Linked DNA regions of Homo sapiens. The protein of the gene in region 2 interacts with the protein of the main gene of each other region in a pairwise test. Each region holds a gene or a part of one and is shown on either strand. Other genes may lie near its edges. The genes, in order: RCN3 and MKNK1.

Region 1 (3,384 bases), on a different chromosome or scaffold from region 2:
CTCATTCCCTTCCAGCCACTCTAGCCTCCTTGCTGATGCTGCCACACCAGGCCCACTCCTGCCTCAGGGCCATTTTACTTGCTCTTCTCTCTCCCTGGAATGCTCTCCCTCCAGATCTCTCCGTGGCTCCCTCCTTCACTCCATTTACCATTGAGACCTTTCCCAGCCTCTCAGTCATCAGAACATTGCCACACTGCTACACGCTTCCCCTGCTTCACAGCATCTGTTGCGCCGTGCCATATTTTAGGTCGCTGTGTCTCTTCCTTACAGAACTGGAGCTCTGAGAGGGCAGGGCTTCCTGTCTGGTTTGTGCGCTGCAGAGTCCAGGCTTTTTTTCCCTTTTTTTTTTGAGACAGAGTCTCCCTCTGTCACCCAGGCTGGAGTGCAGTGGCGCCATTTCGGCTCACGACAACCTCCACCTCCCGGGTTCAAGCGATTCTGCTTCAGCCTCCAGAGTAGCTGGGATTATAGGTGCCCATCACCAGGCCTGGTTAATTTTTGTATTTCTAGTAGAGACGGGGTTTCACCATGTTGGCCAGGCTGGTCTAGGACCCCCGACCTCGTGATCTACCCGCCTCAGCCTCCCAAATTGCTGGGCTTACAGGCGTGAGCCACCGGGCCTGGCCCAATTTTTTTTGTTTGTTTGTTTTATACTGAGGAACGCCCTCCAATCCCTCCAACACCCAGCACCCCTCCTTCAAATGCCTGGTCCCCTATTGCATGTCTCAGCCCCCAACTCCCAGTCACAGCCCCCAAACCATCTCCAGGGCCCCCTTACCCTTCATAGAGACAGGCAGACAACAGACAGACACACAAGGTCCCGGCGCTGGCTTTTATTGCCTCCTGGCAGAGAGGAGGTGTCCCAGGCCAGGCCAGGCAGGAGAGGGCTGGGGCCAGGGGAGTTTCAGTCTATGTGGTGGAGGCTCAGATTTGGAGCTGGAGGGGTTGGGGCGGTTCTTAGAGCTGAGCTTGGGGCCAAGGGTCCCTGGGTCTGGGCTGGGAGACTCAGTCAGAAATAGGTATTGCTTATCCTCTGGGACTATGACAGCCCCTCCCTGGGGTTGGGGGTGTGACAGGGACAGAAGCCGACCCAGGGGGTCCCTGAGAGCCCAGGGGCAGGAGGATGCCTGGGACTGCATCTGCCTCCTGCGGGGCCTGGACAGGGAGGGGGCCAGACCACAGCGGCCCCTCCTCCGGTCATTGTGCGGGCCTCTGAGGCTGTGGCAGGTGCGCGGTGCTCACAGCTCATCGTGGTGCCGGGTCAGGTCCTCGCCATAGTTGGTGGCCTGACTGCCCACAAACATGTTCCAATTACCCAGGATTTCCGCTTTGCTCAGCCGCCCATCCTGGAGGGAGGGTCAGGGTTCAGAGGGGACAACACGGCCCTGCTTTCAAAAGCCCTCCCTGCATCCAAGCGTGTCCCGAAGTCTCTGGGACCCTTGTTCTCTGGGCCTCTGTCCCTTTCTCTCTGAATCTGTCCCCGTCTTGGTCCCTGTCCTTCTCTCTTTGGGTCTCTGGGTCTCTGTCCCCCTCTCTTTCTGGGGCTCCGTGCCCTCTCTTTTCCTCCCTCTCTCTGTCCCTCTTTTTTTATCCCACCTAAAAGGGACCCTGAGCTCCAGGCCCAGGTCTTGCTCCTTTCTGGAGTCTGGCCCGCAATGCCCACCCGCTCCTCGCTCCTGCCGAGGCCCCGTCACTGCACCTTGTCCGTGTCGCTCTCGTGCAGCAGGTGGTTGGCTTCCACCAGGGGCTGGTCCTGGGCAGGGGGCAGCACCCAGTGGCCCACCTCACTCCCATCCAGGTGCCCATCCTTGTTCAGATCCCGGAAGTCCCGGAACTGCTGCCTCTCCGTCTGCACCCACGCCGGCTCCTCCTCCCCAGGCTCGGCTGAGTACAGATCCGCTGGGGGCCGGGACAGAGGGGACAAGGTCAGGGGCAGCTCTGGGGGTCTAGTGGAGCTGGGGGCTGATCCTGGCTCTGATACTTCCTGAACCAGGCCCTTGAGCAACTCACTACCCTCTCTCTCGCCTCAGCGTCCTCTTCTGTTTCGATGGAATTAGTAACAAAACCTGACTTATAAGCAATCATTTGTGTTACAGGTGAAATTCATTTGATTGGTTGATTGCATGATTGATTGATTTCATTGACACACACGTGAAGTAGTGTGTGCAATGGGCAAGGCAGTGCCTGGCACATAGTAAGCAATGTCTATGCAGGAGGAACGTGCGAGGATGTTTCTGGCCAGTTAGCAGGTGACAGAGATGCCAGGTGCAGTGATGACTGTAATCCAACACTTTGGGAGACCCAGGCAGGAGGGTCATTTGAGGCCAAGATTCAAGACCAACCTGGGCAACATAGCAAGACCCTGTTTCTACAAATTTTTTTTTTTTTTTTTGAGATGGAGTCTCGCTGTGATTACCCCACTGCACTCCAGCCTGGGCAACAGGGCAAGACCCCACCCCCTTTTTTTTTTTAAGATGGAGTTTCGCTCTTGTTGCCCAGGCTGTAGTGCAATGGCGCAATCTCAGCTCACTGCAACCTCTGCCTCCCAGGTTCAAGCGATTCTCCTGCCTCAGCCTCCCAAGTAGCTGGGATTACAGGTGCGTGCCACCACACCCAGCTAATTTTTATATTTTTAGTAGAGGCGGGGTTTCACCATCTTGGCCAGGCTGCTCTCAAACTCCTGACCCCATGATCCACCTGCCTCAGTCTCCCAAAGTGCTGGGATTACAGGCTGGAGTGCAGTGACACAATCTCAGCTCACTGCAACCTGCACCTTCTGGGTTCAAGTGATTCTCCTGCCTCAGCCTCCCAAGTAGCTGGGATTACAGGTACCCGCCACCACGCCCAGCTAATTTTTCTAGTTTTAGTAGAGACAGGGTTTCATCATGTTGGCCAGGCTGGTCTTGAACTCTTGACCTCAAGTGATCCACCCACCTTGGCCTCCTAAAGTGCTGGGAATACAGGCGTGAGCCATGGCACCCACCCCAATTTTATACATTTTGATATGTTACTGGTTGGGGAGGAGTTAAGAAATAGGTGCCAGAGCCCAAACACCAAGGTTCAAATCCTAGCCCTGCCTCTTCCCATTGTCTTCAGCAGATCCCTTCAACCCCCCTGGGCCTCAGGTGTCATCTATATAATGGAGGATAGTGACAGTGTCTGCCTGGTAGAGCTGAGGAATGGAAGATGAAGTCTTAATGGGATGAAGTAATTGAGAAGATAGGCTGGGTGCGGTGGTTCGCGCCTGTAATCCCAGCACTTTGGGAGGCCGAGGCAGGTGGATAACCTGAGGTCAAGAGTTCAAGACCAGCCTGACCAAAATGGTGAAACCCCGTCTCTACTAAAAATACAAAATTAGCCAGGCGTGGTAGTGCACGCCCATAA
Region 2 (3,818 bases):
CCTAGACTGTTAGCCAGGGACAGGGTAGAGACTATGTCTCCTTCATCTCTGGGACCCCTACACCTAGCAGAGGCTCTGGTATGGGGCAACCACTTCATAATTGTTAATGAATGGATGGAAACAGCTGAAGTTATTCTTCCCTTAAGCTGTTTTAGCTGGACTCTTATTAGAAGACCGAGTACAGTCTGGGTCACTGCCACAAAGCAGAAAAACCGAAGAGAAAGAAAAGAGGCATGACCAATGTGATCCAAGCAATGGAAAACAGGTTTTAAGAGTGAGGTTAAAGAGACCAAGGCTGTTTAGCCGGGAGAAGAGAAGATGAGGTTTAACTGGATTCTGGCTTTAAGTACAGAAAAGGTTCTCATGAGAAAATCTTGATCTCATCCTCCCTTTAAAATCAGAAGAAACTTTTCCATATTCATGGAAAATGGAACAAGAAGAAATGGCTTAAGTTAAGGCCTGAAGGGTTTAAGCTGGACAGAAAGAAGAACCAAATTAGGCACCACTTTTCCAGAGATACTGTTATTGTACTTTTGGCAAGTGAATTGGAGGAGTCTTGCTTGGCACTCTTGTTGAAGGCTGTGAAAAAAGTAATATATGTGCTGCTCTGTTCCTGTTTACTGTGGAGAGAGGTGAAAACACAAGTCAGGTAAGATTTTCTAACGAGCCACTGATTTTTATTGACCCATTTCCTACAGGCACTTTCTGCCATGTTATGCATTGCAACCATGTGCTGGAACAATCTAGTATCTCAAAGGTTCCTGACAGGGCAATGGAAAGAAAGAGAAGGTAACAATGCGGGGGAAGGGAAAATGGCCCTAATAAATATACTTTCTATAAAAACAGTACCAAACTGGGCATTCATATATTTATTAATATTATTACTATTAAAGCTCACATTCATTGAGCACCTACTGTGTGCCAGGCACTGTGCTGTTGTATCTCAATTCTCATAACAACCCCATGAGGTAAGTAATATTTGTATTCTCATTTTACAGATGAAGGAACAGAAACTCAGGAAGATTAAATAACTTGCCCAAGTCACACAGGTAGCAAGTGACAGAGCCAGGACTCAAACCCAGATAGCCTGACTCTAGAGTCCACATACCTAACTACTGTCTCTCTGTAAGGATGAGAGGCTGGAATATAAACTCTAGTCTCTCTGAATCCTGTTTATATTCTCAGTTCTTCCTCATACAGTCCCAAGCCAGGACATTAGCAAGAGTTGAGGCCTCAGAAGTGAACCAAAATACTCCTCTGATTATCAGCATCTATAAAATGGGGGCAATTACACCCACATCACAGAGTTGTCATGAGAATTAAGTGAGCTAATGTATATGGAGCTCATGGCATCAGTGCCTGGCATACAGTAGGCACCCAATAACTAGTAACTGTTATTCCCGCTTCTGATATGGCTTCCCCAGATCAGCTGTGGCTCTGGAAAGCAACCCAACGACTCTGTGAACCATAACTGGCTGCAGGAGGGAATAATCTGACAGCAAATACAAAGGAAAGAAACAGACTGAGGACTCTCAGATGATAATGAGCAGGTGCAGGACTTGAATGCCAGCCTCTGCACTCCAAGTTAGTGCTCTGTCCTACTTACAGACTCTTGTTGAATTTGAGGGTGAGAAAATGAAGAGACAGGATGTGCCAAACAGGCTGCCTCCCCCGACAGACCCTTTTGTAACGTCAATCTCCCATCAGAACCCATGCCTGAAATACCAGGGTCCTGCAGCTTCTGTAAACTGGTTCTAAGATTCTACTAGCTAAGGATGGCAATGCACTGATTTATGGCACTGTGGGTGCTGCCAAAATGATCACCTATTAAACCTATCAAGCAGACCTAGTCCATGCAGCTTCCAAACTAGGCCAGTGATTCACCGTTTAAGCCTCTTCACTGATGTCCCCATTCTGGGACCATCTTTGCTCCAGTCTAACCTCCGTCCTGCTGCCAGAGAAAACCGAGCGCCAGTCAGGGCATTTGGAGCCTCTAGCATAAGGAAGATAACATGGGCCTTTGAACTCAGCACTGCTAGTTTTGAACCAAGCTGTGCCCTTACTATCTATCTAACCTTGGGGAAGTCACTTTAATCTTTCTGAGGTCTGGTTTCCTCATCTTTAGATTGGAGATAAATAGGCCTATATTACAGGATTAAATATAGTATGTAAAGCAACCAGCATACTGCAAGCCACAAAGCAAAGGAGACACTTTATAAATGCTAGTGTTCTGCTCCCTACTCCACTCTCTACATTTTAGCCAAAATCTGCCAATTCGGCTTACTTCTTCTCCTCACCAACTCCTCTCCCCTCCCACAACACACACACACACACCCCTACACCTGAGCATTTCTGCCTCTCAACTGTTGCTCAAGCTGTTCCTTCTCCCAGGAATAAACTCCCTCCAAGGCCCAGCATAAATTCTCCACCTTCAGGAATCCTCTGGTCATGCTGGGATTGATTTCTCCTTCTTCCAAACTCCCACTTTGTTTACATTCCTTACTACATTTACCATAGTCAGTCTGATTTCAGTTATTTATGTACTTATCTATCTTCCCAACTACACTGGAGGGAGAAGGTTCTGAGAAGACAATTATTTATAGGAGGGCAGGAAATGTGTTGTTTTCCTCTGTGTATATTTCTCAATACCAGGGTCTTGTACATAGCAAGAGCTCAATATGTGCTTACCGAATTGAATCTTTCCATCCTATACTGGGAATCTTTACAGAAAGATCCCAGACTGAGTTCATTCTAAAACTGCATTTACTGCCTAACTTGATAAATAGGCAATTTTTGAAGTACATGAATATTCCTAAACTAAGATCCGCTAATACTCATGTGGGCTTGTTTCATTCCTTCATCCATTCTTCCAATACACTCTGGACTCTTCTTGGGATCTCTCTCCAGCATATAAGGAGACATTGCTGGGACAACACTTCTCACTCACGGAGATCTGGGAGCAAGCTCTTTGGAGAACTGTTCCACCCCACTGGGTAGGAGGTGACTGCCATTAAAACCACACTAAAACCCAGAGTTGTGGAATTGGAAAATAGATCTGAATGATCTGCCTTAGTTTCCAAGCTATAACACAGAGTTAAAAACACTTTTAAAAACAGTGTCTGGAACACAGCAAGTGTGCAATAAATGTTCGATGTTGTATTAACAACGTAGTAGACTGAAAAAACAGAGTCATGACATTTCACTTCTAGAACTATCTCCACTACTGACTGATTCCTTGTGTAATCTTTTTTTTTTTTTGAGACAGAGTCTCACTCTGTCGCCCAGGCTGGAGTGCAATGGCACAATTTCAGCTCACTGCAACCTCTGCCTTCTGGGTTCAAGCGATTCTCCTGCCTCAGCCTCCCAAATAGTTGGGATTACAGGCACCCACCACCATGCACAGCTAATTTTTGTATTTTTAGTAGAGATGGGGTTTCACCATGTTGGTCAGGCTGGTCTCGAACTTCTGACCTCAGGTGATCCACCTGCCTCGGCCTCCCAAAGTGCTGGGATTACAGGCGTGAGCCACACACCGGCCTCCTTGTGTAATCTCAATCAAGTCCTTTCCCCATCTATAAAATGAAAGTGGCGGAACCAGATGGTTGGTTTCCAAGCTCCTTCTACCTTCAACCATGTAAATTTTTCTCTGATCAAGAAATAACTTTCTCTTCCACATGCTGAGGCTGTTGGCAAGGGAAAATGTGCATTTATAGCTGCTGGTCCCCAGATGGGAGGAACCACTGTTTCCCAAGGCCAAGGGCAGAGTAAACTGATTAGAAAACCACCTGTGAGCTTTCCCCTGTTTGAACTGTACTATT

The links.
Region 1: the proteins of MKNK1 (region 2) and RCN3 interact in a two-hybrid assay, tested with the Homo sapiens proteins (one large-scale study listed by BioGRID and IntAct).

The regions. Positions count from the first base shown.
Region 1 is NC_000019.10:49,541,068-49,544,451, reverse strand, and holds the end of RCN3 (reticulocalbin-3 precursor), read right to left. Parts: intron 1,900-3,384; coding exon 1,700-1,899; intron 1,347-1,699; coding exon 1,239-1,346; 3' UTR 819-1,238; downstream 1-818. UniProt on the Homo sapiens protein: Probable molecular chaperone assisting protein biosynthesis and transport in the endoplasmic reticulum.
Region 2 is NC_000001.11:46,597,677-46,601,494, forward strand, and holds part of MKNK1 (MAP kinase-interacting serine/threonine-protein kinase 1), read right to left. Parts: intron 1-3,818. UniProt on the Homo sapiens protein: May play a role in the response to environmental stress and cytokines. Appears to regulate translation by phosphorylating EIF4E, thus increasing the affinity of this protein for the 7-methylguanosine-containing mRNA cap.